Regions from separate parts of the Homo sapiens genome. Here region 2 is linked to region 1. A link means that fine-mapping ties the variant in region 1 to the expression of a gene that starts in the linked region. Tissue or cell type: lung. Region 1 holds a variant in brackets; the other region holds the start of a gene. All regions are shown on one strand. Distances are from middle to middle.

Evidence for each region. PIP is the estimated chance that this variant, and not a neighbour inherited with it, causes the effect.
Region 2: SWAP70 starts here. The variant in region 1 is fine-mapped to the expression of SWAP70 in lung (TOPMed, PIP above 0.99). The same link has a PIP of 0.9 or more in atrial appendage, breast, left ventricle, subcutaneous fat, thyroid and visceral fat.

What each region holds. Positions count from the first base shown.
Region 1 is chr11:9,683,148-9,693,917 of GRCh38, forward strand. The region is part of intron 1 of SWAP70 (switching B cell complex subunit SWAP70); the gene reads left to right. Among named protein-coding and RNA genes, the nearest start is that of SWAP70, 24 kb to the left of the region's middle. The variant T/TGG (reference allele first, on the strand shown) is at 5,803.
Region 2 is chr11:9,657,991-9,668,760 of GRCh38, forward strand. It overlaps SWAP70 (switching B cell complex subunit SWAP70), which reads left to right and starts at 6,087. Exons shown (of 12, transcript NM_015055.4): 1 at 6,087-6,288. The coding sequence starts at 6,190. LOC124902628 (a long non-coding RNA gene) reads right to left here and starts at 2,124. Exons shown (of 2, transcript XR_007062586.1): 1 at 1,393-2,124. It also overlaps the pseudogene RPL21P97. RefSeq lists enhancers at 5,265-5,464, 6,575-6,694 and a silencer at 5,935-6,434.

The DNA of each region.
Region 1 (10,770 bases):
CCAGCACTTGTGAGGCTGAGGCAGGTGGATGGCTTGAGCTCAGGAGTTTGAGACCAGCCTGGACAACATGGTGAAACCTGTTTCTACAAAAAATAGAAAAATTAGCTGGGTGTGATGGCAGGTGCCTGTAGTCCCAGCTGCTGGGGGTGAGGGGTGGGGGATGGTGGCTGAGGTGGGAGAATTGCTTGAGCCCAGGAGGTCGAGCCTGTGGTGAGCCCAGATCGAGCTACTGCACTCCAGCCTGAGTAACAGAGCAAGACCCTGTCTCAAAAAAAAAGAAGAAAAAGAAAAGAAAAGAAAAGAAAATGGTATGTCAGGGACCAAAAACGTCTAAGAGGAGGGGGTGATTCAGACTGCCAACTGCCAGACCTTTGGGAGAGTGACTTGGCCAGAAGGTATCTGTCCCAGCATGGGTTCTCCAGGAAGCCAATGTTAAGACACTGTTAGGAATACAAAAGTGTTACCTGTGGGGTGGGAGAGAGGAAATGAAATTGGGAAAAGGAACTGTCAAACCATCATATGGATTTGGCAAAACCAGGAGCTCTGAAGCAAAGATTGCCCCTTATGGGACTCCCACATTGAGGAAAAGTGATCCTACCACCCCGCTCTGTCACTGGGACCCTGAAAGTAGCTGGAGGCTATCAGCTTAACACAGTCCTTGTAGCTGGGTAGCAGTTACCTACTTGAGGGGGCATCTGAGTGGTGCATCTCTGTGTCTACCTCAGAATCCATTTAGAAAAGCAATTTCAAGAGATTGATAGGGATAGAAGTCATATTTTAGGGACCATGCGGGGTCAGGTTGGTGAGAAGGTGGGGCAGCCGAGGGAAACCTCACATTTGTGATTTTTTTTCATTCTTTTATTTTTAATTTTATTTTATATATTTTTGATTTCTGTATATTTTAATGACTTCAGATTTGTGATCTTTCTTAAATTAAAAAATTTTTCTTTTTGAGACAGGGTCTTACACTGTCACCCAGGCTGGAGTGCAGTGGTGCTGTTATGGCTCACTGCAACCTTGAACTCCTAGGCTCAAGTGGTCCTCCCACCTCAGCCTGCTGAGCAGTTGGGATTGCAGGTGTGCGCCACCATGCCTTGCTAATTTTTATATTTTTCATAGAGACAGGGTCTTGTTATGTTGCCCGGGCTGGTCCCAAACTCCTGACCTCAAGTGATCCTCCTGCCTCAGCCTCCCAGTGTTGAGATTATGGGCATGAGCCACTGCGTCCAGCCAGATTTGTGGTCTTTGTCACCACTTTGAATGCACACTGTGACTTCACATTTTCTCTTGGAGATGAGTGTACTAAATTAAACTTCTAAGGAGGTGATAGTCAAGGAGCTCAGAGCCCCCTCTTCTGTTATAGAGCCTTCTCTCACACCTGCTTGTTAATTCTTATTGTGTCCTTTTCTCAGAAGTCTGTACTTGAATTTTAAGAAACTGGACTTCTCTACTAGATCTCAGGCCAGACGAGTTGTGCTTGGCTAGTTCTGGTGGTGTTAAGAACTAATGGAGGCATTGTTTTTCACTCTGAAAGTGATCTGAACTAGAGATTCCAATTAAAAATTCTTCTAGAAACATGGTAGTATAGTAAAATAAATGCAAAGACCCAGATCTAGATGAAGATGGTAAAGTAGCAAAATGAAATTTAAAAAAAGAAAAAAATTCTTGGAAATTCTTAAATGGGACTAATTTAGCAAACATTTGTTGAACAGCTCTCTCATTAGGTACTTCATTAGGTTTTGGTATTCACAGATGGCTAAAATACGTATTGCACAGATGGCTAAAATACAGACTCTCTCTTTAAGGAACTTACAGAGTAGTGAGAAAGATAAAGAAGCTTGCTGGAGTTAAATCTCCTCACAAATCATTTACCTTCTTAAAAGACATTTGTGCAATATTTCACTGGGGGGCTGGACTCTCAGGAGGCTGTCCCAAATTGGGGGACTTTGTTGTCCATTAGGGTGACTTTCTTTTTTTTTTTTTTTGAGATGGAGTCTCGCTCTGTGCCGAGGCTGGAGTGCAGTAGCACCATCTCGGCCTGCCACAACCTCCATAGGGTGGCTTTTTAAAGAGGTATGGGAAAGCATGCTTTGTGGGTGGCTCAGAGGAGTTAATTTTATCAACTTTATAGTTCTACAATGATCTTTTCATTTTCTAATTTTACTGGTGCTTTCTAGCAGGAGCCTTGTTTCACCTAGTCCTGATACTGCAGCAAAATACCACAGACTAGGTAATTTATAAATAATATAAATTTATTTATCACAGTTCTGGATACTGGAAAGTCCAAGATCAAGATGCTAGCAGATTGAGTGTCTGGTGATGGCTTGCTGTCTGCTCCCAAGATGGTTCCTTGTTGCTGTATCCTCACATGGCAGAAGGGCAAAAGAGACTAGGGAACTCTCTCCCTTCAACCTCTTTTATAAGGTCATTGATCCCATTTGCGAGAGTTCCGCTCTCTTGACTTAATCACCACCTAAAGGCCTCACCTCTTTTTTTTTTGAGACGGAGTCTTGTCTTGCTCTGTCACCCAGGCTGGAGTACAGTGGTGTGATTTCTGCTCACTGCAATCTCTGACTCCCTGGTTCAAGCAATTCTCCTGCCTCAGCTTCCCGAGTAGCTGGGACTACAGGCACACACCACCACGCCCGGCTAATTTTTGTATTTTTAGTAGAGATGGGGTTTCACCATGTTGGCCAGGATGGCCTCGATCTCCTGATCTCGTGATCTACCTTCCTTGGCCTCCTCCCAAAGTGCTGGGATTACAGGCGTGAGCCATTGCTCCCGGCGAGGCCTCACCTCTTAATACTGACACATTGGAGATTAAGTTTCAACATATGAATTTTGGGGGACACATTCAGACCATAGCAAGCCCTCCACCCTACTTAATTTTTTAATTTTCTATTTAAAATATATAAAATATTAAAAGATAAAAGCTTCATTTTCTGATTGAAAGGTAATACATAGAATACTCAAACAATGTATTAAAGTACAGAGTCCAAAGTAAAACATTCAAATTCTACCACCAAAGGCAGGTTGTAATTAACTTTTCAGTGAATATCTTTCTTATATATCTCTCTTTCTCCCTTCCCCCATCATGTACACACATGCATATACACATATGTAAATACACAGACATATATGTCCTTTTGTATAAATAGGGTCATATTCTGTATCCTTTCGTATCCTCTTTTATTTTCTTATTTATTTATTTATTTATTTATTTATTTTTGTGAGACAGGTTCTCGCTCAGTTGCCAGAGCTGGAGTACAGCGGCACCATCACGACTCACTGCAGCCTCAACCTCCTGGGCTCATTTGATTCTCCTACCTTAGCCTCCCTAGTAGCTGGGACCACAGGCTCACAGCTAATTTTTGTATTTTTTGTAGAGATAGGGTCTTACTTTGTTGCCCAGGCTGGTCTTGAACTCCTGGGCTCAAGTGATCCTCCTCCCTTGGCCTCCCTCAGTGCTGGGATTACAGGTGAGAGCCACTGTGCCTGGCCTGTAGTCTCTTCTTAAGCATTGTGTTAGGGTCATCTTTCTGTATAAATGCATATAGATACAGACACCATCCTTTATAATGACTGTGAACTCTTTCATTGTGTTGATGCATCATGCTTTATTTAACCATTTCCTATTCACAGGTATTTGAGATGTTTTAAATGTTTTTAACCCAGGATACTGCTATACATTGTACAATGCGTAGGTTACCTGCCCTGTCCCCCAAACAAATAATTATTCAGCCAAAAATGTCAGTAGTACTGAAGTTGAGAAAAACCTGCTCTGTACCTTCTGCAGTGTTGGATATTGGTAGTCTTTACTCCCTTATATCTCCTCAAACACCAGGTATTACTTAGGCAAAAAGTAGTAGCTCTTTTAATGTGCATTCTTTTGATTACTAGCAAGATTAAGCATCTTTTCCTATATTTTATTTGCCTATTTTTGAAGTAAAAGGTGAGGTTTAATCTTTAGTTACATGATACTGCAAGCTACGCAATTCCGTGTAGAAATAAGGAACCCATTCAGAGGACAAGGTTCATACAGTATGTACAATTTGGAACTGCTCAAATATAGTTTCCTTGTAAAAAAGTATCACAATAACCATATTTAAAGGCATTCTTAGTAGAGAAACAGTAAGAAAAGTTATACCAAATATAATACACAACAAACAACATTATGCCTTAGCCATACAATCCAAAAGTTAAAGGTCCCAGGAGTTCCACCTGAACTTGAAAGGTATCCTCTATTTATTAGTGATTAGTTTCTTTTGTGAATTTTCTATTCGTGTCCACAAGAATGATTTGAATATTGGAGCTATTTGCCTTTTTTGTTTTTTTATGGTTTCTTTCTTTTTAAAAGAAAATATAAGCATTTTTCTGTGGTCAAATTTACCAGTATTTTCTGTTTAGTTTCTGAAGAGGGGTAAGTTGGTAAGTTATCCAAAATAACTTTAAAAAGGTGGTTCAGTTAGAGTGTAATCCAGTGCCATCCATGCTGTATGACATCAGTGGCATATATTCTGTGGACAGCATTCCAACAGATGACTTTGAGTTACTTTTCCTTAATCTGTCTGTAAGTGTTCTGCTCTTACTGAATCTTCGCTTAGCCCTATGCTAGTCACTGAAGGATGCAGAAGGAAAATATTTATTTCCTCCCTTCAATAAGGGAGGATATTTGATAAGTTAGATATTTGAGATACCATTAGTATCTGAAACAGAACATAGTTAAATGCTGAATAGGAGTTCATGGGGCAGGGTGGTAATCCATAAAGATTTCCTAGAGTTTATGAATGACCCAATCTTGAAGGATGTGACTAGGCAGAAGAGAAATGTTTCCAGCACAGGGCATCACTGTGGGACAGAGAGCTAAGAGATTTGAGTTCTAGTCCCTACTTTGTTGCTAATTATTGTGTGACTTAGGCCAAGTCTCAGGCCACAGTCTTTTTATCTGTGAAGTGAGGAGATAGAAATAGTATATTTTCTAAGATTATTGTTAATATTAAAGTATCACGGCTTTAGTGTTAAGAGAATTTTTAGAAAGAATTCACTTAGCAGTTATTGAAAGTCTTCTGGATTCTGGGCAGCATGCCAGGTGCCATGGGCATGCAATGTTGTATAAGATATGGGCCTTTCAGAAATGTACAGTCTTACAGGAGAGAGAAATCATGTGTGGTAGTTAGCACAAGAGGTACTGCTTGGGAAACAGAGTGAAGAAAGATCATCTTGGTTTGGGTGGTGAAGGCTTCAGAAAGAGATGCCATTTTTGTTAGGCAGGAAAGGAGGTAGGGGTAAATTGAGCAAGGGCCCAGGGGAGAAAGGGATGTGGTACAAGTTGCCTGGGATGCAGTTAGTAAGCTTATTTGGCTGGATTTATATGGTTGGTGCAGAGGGTGGGAAGAAATAAGGAAGGTGAAGTGGGCTGGCCTGTGGAGTGACTTAAATATACAACTCACATATTTCCTTAGCTTTTACTTCTGTAGTCTTCTGATGATTTTTAGGCAGGGGGATAACGTGATGTTAGTGGTACTTGAAGATTTGGTGTAAGTGTCTAGGATGGTAACTGATTGTACTTAGGGATTGAGAGCAATGTGAACAATGACTTTGAGATTTTTGAGGCTGGTTAGATTAAAGGTAAGAGGAAACAAGCAAGACTTAAGCAGTGACAAGCAGGATGAAAAGATGTTTGGAAGGGGAAAATGAGTCCATGCGGGAATGGGCAGGACTTAGAGTAGACAATGCTTTTAAGGCAGGGCATAGCTGTGGTAGGAAATTGGTCATGCTGGTCCATTGTTAGGAAGAATTTTC[T/TGG]GGTAATTTGCCATTGGCTTGAAATTTTATAAATCAGACAGGAATTTTAATGTTTTAAAAAAAGATTGCCCATTATGAGTTATAAGTCTATAATTGTGTCAGTTCAGATAAGTCTTTTGGAATAGAAATCTGCCCCCACTCCGCTTTTTTTTCAGTGTTGAATCTTGCCCATTACGCACATCCTGTAAAGGGAAACAGTGTGTTACTGGGTGGCACGTTTTAAATAACTTTTTAGAATCTCTACGTCTTTGGAGAAAGGAGGGTGAACACTACTTACTCGTGTTAAAACACTGTTCACCATCCTTGATTTCATTTTCATGATGGCTGGAGTAAAATGCTCAAAAGGGGTAAATGGCAAGCAAACCACTGAACAGGAACAGACCACACGAGCAGGGCTCATGCAGTTAATTAGTCATCTTGTCAGCAGAGGCCCTGCAGAGGCAACTGCAGACAGCTATGAGGGAACTGGAGAGATGAGTTTCTGGCATGGATATGGATCTGTTATTGTGGTAACAATAGTTTATTCTTCAGATCAGCAGAATGAGAGCAAAGCTGCTTAGCAATTATGTGGGTGCTGAAAGAATGGCCTTTGGAGGAACAGGCATTTGAAGCGGGATAAATTCAGCTTTTTCAAGAAACTTGCAAACACCCTGATTAGAATGATTTGGGGCAGTCCTTTTACAAATCAAGAACTTGTAGTCCTCTTTCTGATTCTTTTGTCTTAATCTGCTTTTCAGCTTCCTCATCTGGAGAAGGGGTTAGTGCCTCTTAGTGCAGATTCCCCCAGAGGGATAGGGTGCTGGGAGATGAGGGCTCCCAGAGAGAGAACGGTCCCAGACTTCTAGGTATGTGGACTTCCTTGCCACTGGCACTAACTTGGCTCTGCTGAATAGTGCCTGTCATCTCTGTTGGGCCCTGTGGAGCTGATGGGGTGGGGCTGGGGTAGCACCAGCACATCACTAAAATTTAGAAACAACTCACGGGCGTGTCCATCTTTGTATTGGCAGGGCTATCTGTTTTTCCAGAAACAGAGGGAAGGTAGCAAAGCATGGAAAGGACACCAGAGTGGGAGGCTTGGGTCTAATCCCAGTTTTGCTACACGTAAAACTCTGTGATTTGGGACACATCTCCTAATCTCTGACTCAGCCTCTTCGTCTGTAAAATAGCAATAATATCTATTCTCCCTGTGGAGAGGCTAAAACAAATTAATAGATGGTATGAGTCTACTTGAAAAAGCATAAATTGCTGTATAAGTTTATGGAGGAGCTTTTACTTCTTTTTACTAGTTTATATTCCGGCCATCAAAAATTTTATTTCTTGTATATTTTATTTTTATAAAAAGAAAACCTTGGTAAGGTGTAGTCGTTCACGCCTCTAATCCCAGCACGCAGGCCAAGGTGGGTGGATCACTTGAGGTCAGGAGTTTGAGACCAGTCTGGCCAACATGGTGAAACTCTGTCTCTACTAAAAATATAAAAATTAGCTGGGTGTGGTGGCAGGTGCCTGTAATTCCGCTACTTGGGAGGCTGAGGTGGAAAGATTGCTTGAACTTAGGAGGCAGACGTTGCTGAGATCATGCCATTGCACTCCAGCCTGGGTGACAGAGTGAGACTCTGCCTCAAAACAAAAAACAAACAAACAAAAAACCTTGTTGAGACTGGGCATGGTGGCTCATGTGTATAATCCTGGCACTTTGGGAGGCTGAGGTGGGAGGATCACTTGAGCCCAGGAGTTTGAGACCCGCCTGGGCACACATAGTGAGACCCCATCTCTATTTTTAAAAAATACAAATAAATCTTAAAAAAGAAAAAAATACTTGAGATACTGTCTAAGCTTTAAAGAAAGGTTGCTGATAAAAAGTTTTAAAGATAGTACACAATTTTTTCCTCTTTTAGAAATACTGTTTCATTGTTGCTTTATTCAGTTGGTTGTTTTATATATACATATATATTATAATTAATTAATTAATTTTTGAGATGGGACCCCCTCTGTCACCAAGGTTGGAGTGCAGTGGCATGATCATGGCTCAATGCAGCCTCGACCTCCCTAGGCTTAGGTGATCCTCCCACCTCAGCCTCCCATCTCAGCCTCCCAGGTAGCTGGGACTACAGGCATGTGCCACCACATCCAGCTAGCTTTTGTACTTTCTATAGAGATGGGGTTTTGCCATGTTGTCCAGGTTGGTATTGAACTTCTGGGCTCTAGCTATCCTCTTGTTTCAGCCCCCCAGAGTGCTAGGATTATTGGCATAAGCCACCATGCCCAGCCTGTTGTTATATTTTTTGAAGAAGACTTCCCTTTTATAGACCTTACTAACAGTGAAAAAGCTGTCACAAAGCTGGACTTCTTATCTAAATTATGAAATGAGTTTGGGTTGATAGTTAAGGGTTTTACAAACAAGTCCAACTCTCATTTGACAGTGAGGATGCAGAGACATTGGAGCGCAGGTCTCTTCCAGGTGCCTTGTATACTGTGCTGCCTTCCTCACAGTTTGCCTAAGTAAAGATGGTTAAGAAAATTATCACTGAATTTAGCCATCCCTGTGTTTAACAAGAGTGCTGTTTAATTGTCGAAGGCTGAAATCTTGAGTTCAAATCTATATCTTCTGCAGTGGGATCACTTAATCAAACTAAGCATCTATATGTACAAAGAGCATTGTTGACTTTAGACAACTGAAGACATAATGTTTCTTATTACTGGAGAGTGCTGGACCAGAGATTACAAAACCCGAGTTCTAGTCTCAGTTCTTCTCAGTAACTTTAGTCAAGAAAAACAAATTTAATATCTGTGAGTCTGTAGTCACCATTTATAAGATGAGGATGACAATATGACATCCAAGGCCCCTGCCAGGGCTTTAGTTAGAGGATCTGTGAAACCCTAAGGTAGAGAACAGGGTGGGTATGGGAGAGATGGTGTTTTTTGTTTCCTGAAGGCTTTGGATTAATCAGCTACTTTTATCATGTTATTCCCCTATCTGGAAATTTTTGTATTTGCCTCTATTCCTATCCTAAAGCTATCCTTACCTATCCTGTAAGCCATAAGTTACATTTTACTTCCTCTGTGAAGTCACTGTAACACATACTATTTCTCCTTTTCTGAACTCATTTATTGCCCTTACAGCTCACTCATCCATTAGTCATGGTACATTGCTGTGGAATATGTCTTCCTTTTACACCTCATTTCTAGTCAGCAGGTTAATGTAGAAGAAAAAGTATAGGCTATGAAGATAAATAGATTGATCTATGTGATCTTAGGCTGGCCACTTAAAATATATATATATATATATATATTTAATTTTAAAAATATGTACTACATTTTTGAGTAGGTTAATTTTTTTTAAAAAAACTTAATACAAAGAAGAGCTACAGTGAAGTCTTTTTCTAACCTTGGTCTCATCAAACTTGTCTTCCTTTCACAGTTACTAGTTTCTTATATATCCCTCCAGAATTTCTTTTCTTCCTCCCTTTTCTTTTTTATACAAAAGATGGCATACATATTCTTAGGTACCTTGTTTTTTTCACTTAATTTATGTTGGAGATCTTTTCATATCCGTACATAGCAAGCTTTCTCATGGTTTTTATGTTTTATGGATATACCTTAATTTAACCAGTAGTTGGGAATTGTTAACTTGGGTAAAGTTCCAAATGATTTTAAAATTTGAATGACATTTGAACCTGATCTGAGAAGTGTGCATTTCTTTAATACTTGTATTTCCATAGCATTTTACAGTTATTAAGCTCTTTATATTCTTGAAATTGATCTTTAGTATATAGGATTTACTAGGCTAATATAAATTAAATATCTTTTTAAAATTTTGCTGATTGTGGTGCAGGATTCTCCAATAAAAGCTCCACCGTACTCTTTTCATGTGCTTTACTGGCAAACACAGGGTTTGCTTGAGAAACACAGCCTGCTTTGTAGTCTTCATTACTGCATTTATAACCATTTGTGAATTTACTTCCTTAACTTACTTCCTTAAAACCAGTAGAGCATGTAGAAAAGGATCTCCACATAAATGAAGCTTTGAGAAACAAAACAAATTTAGAAAGAAGATATGCAAATTATTTTATAGATTAAAAATGTTTAATCTTAAAAAAACTCCTAACTGAAATATGTGTATGCAGAAAAAGGGACTCGCTTAATGCAAATGAAAGTATTTATTGAGATGAATGTGGCTCCTTAAGGTTAAATGTTTAGGGCTGAGAAAAATAAGGAACGTTTTTACCTGGGGTTCAACTAGGAAGATTCTCTGTTGAAGAAAATACAGCCTTAGCTATGTAATTTGACCTGTTCAGAAAGCACAAATGAAATGGAAGGGATTTAAGTTCTATCTTGAAATTTTCATTTAATGTAAAACAAGATTAATACTAAGGTAGCCCACACTGCTCATTTAACTACTGTACCTGGACTTTGAAGTGTGAACTTAGGTTATTGCAAGACCAGTAGCCCTTTATATGTATTTATGCTATGGAATGCAGGTTTTCTGTAAAATATTTTTAACCATGTTGGCGACTCCTATTTTTGCTATTTAATTTTTTCCTGAATCTAATCCAGGCCCTTGATTTCTTTCTCTTTTTATATTTATATTCTTTTATACTCATGCTGAAATTTAGCCTAGTCATAGAATTTTAGAAATGTTTAGATACTTAGAGATTCCTAATTAATATTTGGTATATTAATTTGGCCCTTTCTATTGAATAAATGAGAAAACTAAAGCCTGGAGAGGTTGTGACTTGCCCAGGTCAGCCTCCTTGTCCAGAACCCCTGGCTGCAGCCTCCCAATAATACCAGGTTCTTTCTCTGAACAGCTCTAATTGGCTGACTCTGCTCTACTTGGTGAAAAGTTTAATTTTGAACACATTCTCTTAGACTTCCCCCCCCACCCCACTTTTCTTTCTGATGTGGACAAATTAGTAAAAGACCACAGGAGTATTATATTCACAGATCTTGCATGGAGCCTGGCTCATA
Region 2 (10,770 bases), 25 kb before region 1:
ATGTTGGCCAGGCTGGTCTTGAACTCCTGGCCTCAAGTGACCCACCTGCCTTGGCCTCCCAAAGTGCTGGGATTACAGGCATGAACCACTGCCCCTGGCAATCTCACAGTTCTGGACTAGATGTCCAAGATCAAGGTGTTGGTTGGGTTGATCCTGCCTAAGAGCTGTGAGCAATAATCTGTCCCATGTTTCTCTCCTAGATTCTCGTGGTTTGCTTGCTGGCAGCAATGTCTGGCATTCTTTGGCTTGTAGATCCATCACTCTGATCTCTGTCTTCAGGCTGGCATGGTGTTCTTTCTGTGTGCATGTTTGTGTCCAAAATTTGGACGCCAGTCATAATGGATTAGGACCCAACCTAATGACATCATTTTAAGTGAACTACCTCTATAAAGACCCTATCTTCAAATATGATTACATTCTGGCTGGGTGCAGTGGCTCATGCCTGTAATCCCAGTGCTTGGGAAGGCTGAAGTGGGAGGATCCTTTGAGGCCAGGAGTTTGAGACCAGTGTGGACAACATAGCCAAGACCCTGTCTCTACAAAAAAAGTAAAAAAATTAGCTGGGCATGGTGGTATGTGCCTATAATCCTATGTACTTGGGAGGCGGAGGCAGGAGGATCACTTGAGCACAGGAGTTCAAGGTTACAGCGAGCTATGATTGTACCACTCTACCCCCGCCTGGGTGACTGAGATCCTGTCGCTAAAAAAACCCAAAAACAAGAGCAAATAAGATCACATTCTGAGGTACTGGGAGTTAGAATTTCAATATGAATTTTGGTGGGGACACAAGTCAACTCAAAGCACCGACCTTCAATAGCAATTCCCTCACTGTCCTTCAAGACTTCTCTTGAGGTCCTTTTGGCTTCCGCCCACCCCTGTCCAAAGCCGATGACACATGTTTTTCTTTCTTTTTTTTTTTTGAGACAGAGTCTCGCTCTGTCACCCAGGCTGGAGTGCAGTGGTGCGATCTCCGCTCACGGCAAGCTCCGCCTCTCAGGTTCACGCCATTCTCCTGCCTCAGCCTCCCGAGTAGCTGGGACTACAGGCGCCCGCCACCACACCCGGCTAATTTTTTGTATATTTAGTAGAGACAGTGTTTCACCATGTTAGCCAGGATGGTCTTGATCTCCTGACCTCGTGATCCACCTGCCTCAGCCTCCCAAAGTGCTGGGATTACAGGCGTGAGCCACCGCGCCCGGCCAACACATGCTTTTCATTGTTGCAGTGTCTAACTTCACCAGTTTTATTATCAGTTATGGGCTGATCAGGGAAGTGGCCACCACTATGGAATACAGGCTTTATTCTGAGAATTGGATACAATACAGTTGCAGGAGAAGCTAGGGAAGAAAAGGTCTGAAAGGAGATGGCTGGACAATCAGAAAAGTCACTAACCAGAGATCACAAAGGAAAGCTGACGAATGAGTACATGGAAGGCTGTTCCCTCTGCATCCAGCAATGGGCCTGAAGTTTATGATAGGTCATCAGGGCTAGCAATCAGGAAGAAAAGTTGGATTGCATTGAGGGAGAGTGAGGACAAACTAGAATCCACAGGACAAACTGGAACCCACGAAGACAAAATGGAACTCACAGCTATCTTTCACATTGACGAGCATGCGATATGTAGCATAAGCTAATGCCTTTACCATGGAACTACACGTGCCTTGCGCCAAGGCTTGGAGACACTGAAATAGAAAATTTGGTGGGAGTTGAAGGAGCTGTGGGCCAGTTAATGCTCTGTACCAACAAAGTATGTTAGCAGATCAGTAACCACTCTATGATCTGCAGCGGCATGTGATATTTACATCAACCTTCAGAACACAAGGGCTGCTGCTTCCAAATCTTACATAAATCTTACCTGCTCCTTCCAAACTTACACGAAATTCTTCTGTAGTGAATCCTATCCTGGATCCACATTGGGAACGGACATTTGAGGAACTAGATTTCAACTTACCTAATTGACACAGTACAAACATCAGTGACTGTCAGATACCATGATGCTGATGCTGTGTCTTATACATACTACCCTCTCATTTAAACTTCATACCAGTCTTGCAAAATAGATCTCATCTGGAAAGACCTCATCAAAAAAATAAAAATTAAAAAAAGAGGCCGGGTGCGGTGGCTGACGCCTGTAATCCCAGCACTTTGAGAGGCCGAGGCAGGGTGGATCACGAGGTCAGGAGTTCAAGACCAGCCTGGCCAAGATGCTGAAACCCCATCTCTACTAAATATACAAAAATTAGCTGGGCATGGTGGCACGCGCTTGTAATCCCAGCTATTTCAGAGGCTGAGGCAGGAGAATTGCTTAAACCCAGGTGCCAGAGATTGCAGTGAGCCAAGATCAAGCCACTGCGCTCCAGCCTGGGTGACAGCAAGACTTCGTCTCAAAAAAAAAAAAAAAAAGTTTCCTTTCGGCCGGAACCGCCATCTTCCAGTAATTCGCCAAAATGACGAACACAAAGGGAAAGAGGAGAGGCACCCGATATATGTTCTCTAGGCCTTTTAGAAAACATGGAGTTGTTCCTTTGGCCACATATATGCGAATCTATAAGAAAGCTGATATTGTAGACATCAAGGGAATGGGTACTGCTCAAAAAGGAATGCCCCACAAGTGTTACCATGGCAAAACTGGAAGAGTCTACAATGTTACCCAGCATGCTGTTGGCATTGTTGTAAACAAACAAGTTAAGGGCAAGATTCTTGCCAAGAGAATTAAGGTGCGTATTGAGCACATTAAGCACTCTAAGAGCCGAGATAGCTTCCTGAAACACGTGAAGGAAAATGATCAGAAAAAGAAAGACGCCAAAGAGAAAGGTACCTGGGTTCAACTAAAGCGCCAGCCTGCTCCACCCAGAGAAGCACACTTTGTGAGAACCAACGGGAAGCAGCCTGAGCTGCTGGAACCTATTTCCTATGAATTCATGGCATAATAGGTGTTAAAAAAAAAAATAAAGGACCTCTGGGCTGTAAAAAAAAAAAAAAAAATTAAAAAAAGAAAAAAGAAGTGTTGCAAAATAAATATTAGCATTCTCATTTTACATATGAGGAAATGAAGCCTTATATTTACTCATAGATGAGTCAATGGGGAAGCCCGGATTCTTCCCGACATCTGTGTGGTAGCCATCTTCCAAGATGACCCCCATGATTCTTGCCCATTGGTACTCATATCCTTTTGTAGTTTCCCTCCCAAATCAAATAGATTTGACCTGAGCAATCAGTAGAGCATTGCAGAAATGATGGTGAATGACTTTTGATGGTGGATCGTAAGAGACATTGCAACTTCCATCTTTCTCTTTCTTGAATCAATTGAAAGCCAGCTGACGTGTTGTAAGGATACTCAAGCAGCCTGAGGACAGGCCCATATACAGAGGAACTGAGGCCTTCTGTAAACGACCCATCCATGTGAGTGAACCACCTTGGAAATAGATTTTCCAGCATCAGCCTAGCCTTCAAATGACTACAGCCCTATATTTTACTGCAACCTCCTGAGACACTTCAAGCCAGAACTATAGAGCTAAGTGGCTTCTAAATTCCTGACTTACAGAAAATATGAAATAATGTTTACTATAGTTTTAAGCTGCTAAATTTTGGGTTAATTGGTTACACAGCATTAGATTAATATAATCTGTTAGATTCTGAAGCACAACTCTTTACTTTTCTTTCTTTCTTATTTTCAATTTTTTTGTGGAGACGGGGTTTTGCTACATTGCCCAGGCTGGTCTTGAACTCCTGGCCTCAAGCAATCCTCCCACCCCAGTCTCTCAAAGTGTTGGGATTACAGGCAGGAGCCACTGCACCCAGGAAAAGCACAGCGCTTTCTATGACATCATGCTACTTTAAAATTTGTTTGGATAGGAAGGGCATGGTGGCTCACGCCTGTAATCCCAGCACTTTGGGAGGCCAAGGAGGGCAGCTCACTTGAGGCTGGGAGTTTGAGACCAACCTGGCCAACATGGCGAAACCCCATCTCTACTAAAAATAAAAAAATTAGCCGGGCGTGGTGGCTGGCGCCTGTAATCCCAGCTACTTGGGAGGTTGAGGCAGGAGAATCGCTTGAACCCGGGAGGCGGAGGTTGCAGTGAGCTGAGATCATACCGTTGCACTCCAGCCTGGGCAACAGAGTGAGACTCTGTCTCAAAAAAAAAAGAAAAGAAAAAAAAAGAAAAAAAATGCGTTTGGATTGTATGAATGAGGATGATGGGAGAAGTAGGAATTTGGAAGTCCACAATGTCCTGGTCTTGTCATAAAAAAAAGGCTTTGAAATATGTTTGGTACTTCCAGATACTGAGAGAGAAGAAGGGTCATATAGTGGTTAAACTGAACCTTGAGAATTAGGAGGTTTTCTTCGTTTCTTTTTTCTTCTTCTTCTTTTTTTTTTTTTTTTGCTACTCAGGGTAAGCTGACTTCGCATGAATAAATCAGAGGTTAAACCATGTGGTTTTGCTGACTGGCAGACTTGGGCTGGAAATGGGGAAGATAAATGATAGAAATTGGATTCTGGTAGGGCAAGAAAAGTCCTGACAAATGGTGATGAAATGGGGTAGAACCTTCAGGACAGTCACAGTGAGGGGCTGGCCACCCTTTTGCTCCTGCCCCTTCTTTCGTCAGTGGGGCCATCCTCTCCTCTTCCCCACCAGTTCCTTTTTGATCTCAAACTCACTGAAGAGGCTCCTTCTTGTTCTTCTCTTTCCAAATATCCCTTTCTTATGAAGATCTTTTCCTTTCTTAATAAGGCAAACATGTGCATTAAGGAACTTAAAAAAGCAAAACAAAACCAAACTTCATCTGAGAACCACCTCATTTTAAAAACTCTTGGTGTTTATTGTTCTCTCCAATTAGTCCAGGATTGGAGAGGAGAGGTACTGAGCCTGGCGATTTAATCAGACCTTAGTTAACCGGCAATAGTTATTATCCTAGGATGCTAGTACTGCAAGAACCCTTCCAGAACATCTGGTGCAACCCTGCTCTTTTTATACGGGATAATTTGAAGCCCAAAGAGATCAAGTGACCATTGTGACCACCGCGAACAGATATTAATTCAACAGCTGCAATCGAATACTTTTTTTTTTTTTTTTGAGACGGAGTTTCACTCTTGTTGCCCAGGCTGGAGTGCAATGGCGCGATCTTGGTTCACTGCAACCTCCGCCTACCGGGTTCAAGCGATTCTCCTGCCTCAGCCTCCCGAGTAGCTGAGATTACAGGCATGTGCCACCACGCCCGGCTAATTTTGTATTTTTAGTAGAGACGGGGTTTCTTCATGTTGGTCAGGCTGGTCTCGAACCCCCGACCTCAGGTGATCCGCCCGCCTTGGCCTCCCAAAGGGCTGGGATTACAGGCGTGAGCCACCACGCCTGGCCGAATACGTTCTTTTAAATGGTCCATCTCTTTGGATTAGTAAAATGGGTGGAGTGATTTGGAATTGGCCCAGATCTCCTATTCTGCAAGCAGAGAAACACTACAGAGAGGTATTACCCAGGTCAAACCCCTCCTAAGATGTGAATTGAACAACAGCTAGGCGTTAGGAAGAAAATGCTGCCTGACCCTGACTTCTAAACTCCCCTTAAACGTCGTCGCTGTGTCCCTAGAACCCAAGATAGAGTATGCATGAATAAACTTTTGCGAAATGAACCAACAAACTTCCCTCGAGGTCCTTCCTGCCTCCCCGCCGCCCTGCATCTCCCCGACTTGGGACTGCGCTATCATTTCAGTCCTGGTCTGGGGACTTTTCGGGGTCTTCTCTGGCCTTCTCAGACAGTGACTCCGTTCCCAGGACAGGACCAGGGATCCCTTTTTCACTGCGGGGCGCTGGGAGGAGGCGGGTAGGCTGCTCACCTAATCTCTCGGGTTTTTCCTCAAGACGCGGTCATTTGTGTGAGGTGTTGTACTCGAGCACCCAAAATGGCCCGAACTGGTCTGGGAAACATTAGGGAGATGTGTTTACCGTCCTGGCTGACACTGAAGGCCAAGCATTCTTGCCACCAGGCGTGGCTTGACTCGCAGAACCCACACTCTGGCGGCTGTGGGCGCGGCACTGGACCGGCGCCGGCAGCAGGGCGGGGCCTGGCGGGGGCGGGGCCTGGCGGGTCAGGTGACTGCGCGGCGGGCTGTGGCTGCGGAGGTTGAGGGGCGTCCGAGGCGCGGAGGGGCTGGCTGGGCAGGAGGGGTTGGCGGGGCAGCAGGGCCGCGGCCATGGGGAGCTTGAAGGAGGAGCTGCTCAAAGCCATCTGGCACGCCTTCACCGCACTCGACCAGGACCACAGCGGCAAGGTCTCCAAGTCCCAGCTCAAGGTGGGCGCCTCCTGACCCGGCCCCCCACCCGACCCTCCCCGGCGCGCTCTGTACTTCCCTTGGGTGGAAGCGGGACCTGGCGGGCCGTGACCGCAGGGCGGGGCGGGTCGGAATGCGCCCGGTAGGCCCGCTTGGGGCGGAGTGGGTCTGAGACCGGGATTTGGTGTTTACTGCCTCCCCCTTGCCTTCGGGCCATGCCCTCGGTTGGATGTGTTAGTTCCCGCGGGTCTCCCAGGGACTGGGAAGGGTGGCGGGCATAAGGCTGGGGTGAAGTCTGGAGGGCCAAGTGTGATTCCTTCTTGGCGTTGGAGAGCGGGGGGCAGAAAGTGGATTCTGAGGCGGCAATGGGAAGCTCCCTTACACAGCCTTCCCAGAATTTTCCTCTTACTCCAGGAGAGGAAGGGACTTGCCCAAGGTCGCTGGGCAGAACCTTCTGCAGCCCACAGCCCCACACCAGGACAGTCCTCAAAACGGCTAGCTGCCCCGGAGGCGACAGGGCAGTCCGGAGACGCAGAAATGCCCCGAAGCCCGGCCTCCAGGGTCCTTCTCCTTTGGGAGGCTTTTTGACTTGGGAAGACCTTCCGCCCAGCGTCTTTTAAGTTTGGAACTAGTGGACGGGGTGTACTGTGTCCCACAGGGACCTTAGTTCCGGGTGAGGAGCGCTGATCTTTCTGGCACCCTGCAAAAGCGACTGCTTTTTCAGAGTCGTTATTGTGACTGCCGGAGACCCTAGAGTATAGGGTATAAATAAAGGGATGCTTGTAAATTGAGTAACCCCAAGCAGCGAAATTGGCATTAAGCCAGCAGAAATTGGCAGCTTCTTCAAAGTAAAAAAATATAGAAACAGACAAGAAAAGCTATTCATAGGCATTTAAAAATATACATATTTTAGATCCGAATGTCCGGTTTTCTTAGCCCCTTCTGGGAATAAATTCTGAAGATTGGGTTTGTTTTGTATATTTTTGTACAGTAATCCCGTTCTTCTGAGTAGTGGCTTTTATGCCAGTAGGACTTAACATTCTCCTTGTCTTCCTTTTGCCTCTCCTTTCTTTTTCTCACTGATAGAATCATAGTCTGGAAGGGTCCATGGAGATCATCCACGTAATTTTTATTTTACTTCATTTTTAAATATTAACATACAGTAAAATTGACTTTTGGTGTACAGTTCTATAAATTTCAACATATGTATAGATTTATATAACTATCACCACAACCATGGCTTCCTCAGTTCCATCATCCTAAAAAACTCCCTGATGTTGCCCTGCCTCCACCCCAACTGTCGGCAACCATTGATCTTTCCTAATTGCTATAGTTTTACCTTTTCCGAAGTGCCATGTAAATGGAGTCATATAGTTTGTAACTGTTGAAACTGATTTCTTTTACCCAGCATAATGCCTTAGAGATTAATCCATTTTGTTGTGTGTACCAATAATTTTTTAAATTGCTAAGTAATATTCTATTGCATGGATGTATGGTAGTTTTTAGCCATGCATCTGTGAGAATTTGTGTTATTTCCAGTTCGGGGGAGTTATGAGTAGGTCTACATTTTACTTTTATTTTTACTTTTAACTTACCTATGCCATTTTATTTAAAGTAAGTTTTTAATAAATAGATGTAGCTGGGTCTTTTTTTTTATTCATTCTGACAATCTCTGTCTTTTAATTGGTATATTTAGGCCATTTACATTTAATGTAATTATTGATATGGTTTGATTTAGGGCTACCATTTTATTATAATTTGGTTTCTGCTTTTTTTTTTTCCTCTCTTTTTCTTCCATCTTTGGGATTATTTGAATATGCTTTAGTTTTTTGTTTTTTTTTTTTCTGAGACACAGTCTTGCCCTGTTGCCCAGGCTGGAGTGCGGTGGTGTGATCTCGGCTCACTGCAACGTCTGTCTCCTAGGTTCTAGAGATTCTCGTGCCTCAGCCTCCCAAGTAGCTGGGATTGCAGGTGTGCGTCACCACACCTAGCTAATTTTTGTATTTTTAGTAGAAACGGGGTTTCACCATGTTGGCCAGGCTGGTCTTGAACTCCTGAGCTCAGGTGATCTGCCCTCCTTGGTTTCATGAAGTGCTAGGATTACAAGTGTGACCCACTGTGCCTGGCCAATATTTCATTTTAATAGAGTTTTTTACTATATTTCTTCATGTAGGTTTTTTTAGTACTTGCTCTAGGAGTTAGAATATCCATCCCTAACTTTTCATAGTGTACTTAGAGTTAATATTTTACCACTTTAAGGAGAATGTAGAAAACTTATCACCATATAGGTCCCTTTACTCTCACTGCTTTATGTTGTAATTGTCATATTTATTAATCTACATACATTGAAATCCCCATCAGACAATATTAAATTTTTTGCTTTCAACCATCATTTCTCTTTTAAAGATCTTAAGAGGAGAAGAAAATTTTATTCTTTTTTTCCAGATATTCCCAGATGACCTCTTAATTTTTTTTTTTTTTTTTTGAGCCGGAGTTGCGCTCTGTCACCCAGGCTAGAGTGCAGTGGTGTGATCTCGGCTCACTGCAACCTCTGCCTCCCGGGTTCAAGCGATTCTCCTGCCTCAGCCTTCTGAGTAGCTGGGACTACAGACACGTGCCACCAAGCCTGGCTAATTTTTGTATTTTTAGTAGAGATGGGGTTTCACCATATTGGCCAGGGTGGTCTCAAACTCCTGACCTCGTGATCTGCCCGCCTTGGCCCTGCAAAGTGCTGGGACTACAGGTGCCCGCTGCCATGCCTGACTAATTTTTTTGTGTGTATGTTTTAGTAGAGACGGGGTTTCATTGTATTGCCCAGGCTGGTCTCGAACTCCTGAGCTCAGGCAATTTAACCAACTTGGCCTCCAGAAGTGCTAGGATTACAGGTGTGAGCAACTGCAATGATATGTTTAGTGATTTGTCCAAAGTCACAGTTGTAAGTAGTAGCTAATCTAGAACCAAGATTTTCACACTTCTGTGTGTGTGTGTGTGTGAGAGAGAGAGAGAGAGAGAGAGACAGGGTCTTGCTGTGTCACCCAGGCTGGAGTGCAGTTGCACTATCTTGGCTCACTGCAACCTCCACTTCCTGGCTCAAGCGATCCTCCAGCCTCCACCTCCCAAGTAGCTAGGCTCACAGGCATGAGCCACCATGCTCAGTTCATTTTTGTATTTTTTTGTAGACATAGGGTTTTGTCATGTTGTCCAGGCTGGTGTTGAACTCCTGAGCTCAAAGACATCCGCCCGCCTTGGCCTTCTAAAGTGCTGGTATTCAGATATGAGCCACCTTGTCCAGACAACTCTTTATAATTCTTTTTCTCTTTTTTTGGAGACAAGGTCTTTTTGTCGCCCAGGCTGGAATGCGGTGGCGCGATCATGGCTCAATGCAGCCTCAACCTCCTGGGCTCAAGCAGTCCTCCCACTTCAGACTCCCACGTAGATGGGACTACAGGCACAGGCCACTATGCCCAGCTAATGTTTGTACTTATGTAGAGATGGAGTTTTGCCATTTGCCCAGGCTGGTCTTGAATTCCTGAGCTCAGACTATATGCCTGCCTCAGCCTCTCAAAATGCTGGGATTACAGGCACGAGCCACTGCACCCATCCTATTTTCACACTTTATTACTATTACTGTTGTATTTTTTATTTTTTTGAGACGGAGTGTCGCTTTATCACCCAGGCTGGAGTGCAGTGGTGCGATCTTGGCTCACTGCAACCTCTGCTTCCTGGGTTCAAGCGATTCTCCTGCCTCAGCCTCCCAAATAGCTGGGATTACAGGTGCCCACTACCACACCTGGCTAATTTTTGTATTTTTAGTAGAGATGGGGTTTCACCATGTTGGCTGGGCTCATCTCAAACTCCTGACCTCAGGTGATCCACCCGCCTTGGCCTCCCAAAGCATTGGGATTATAGGCGTGAGCCACCATGCCTGGCCTATTTTCACACTTTAAAGCCAATGGTTTCTTCATTTTCTTCTCTTCCAATTGACGGCATAAATGAGATTTTTTGGATTACTTTGATGATACTTTATTCAAAATTGTCTTTATGGCTGCTTATAGGAAAAGCGTCTTGGCAGGAAATGTTAAATCCCAGTTCATAGATTTCACCCACAGTATGTTGATAATGCAACTGTGCAATTGTATTTTGTCTCTCTCTTGTCTGTATGAGACTTTGGGATTGGTTCAGTTCTGTTCATCTTGCCAGTGTTCGTAGAATTGAAAATATTTAAACATTTTTATTTAGGTCTCCTTTTGTGTTTGACCCTAGTTCTGTGTTCTGTTGGCTGGGAGTAGAGTTTTTGCCTTAATTTGTTGATTGATTCATTCACTCATACAGTAACCTTCTGTAAGTCTACTATGTGTAAGGTACCATGCTAATTTAGTCAGAAGATTAGTATTTTTAGGCTCTTAAGAGTTAATATCTCCTTGGAGGAAATGTCAAATAATTGATTTGTTAAACAGCAGACTAATAATTATGTATCCAAAATGATGGTTAAAATGTATTGCT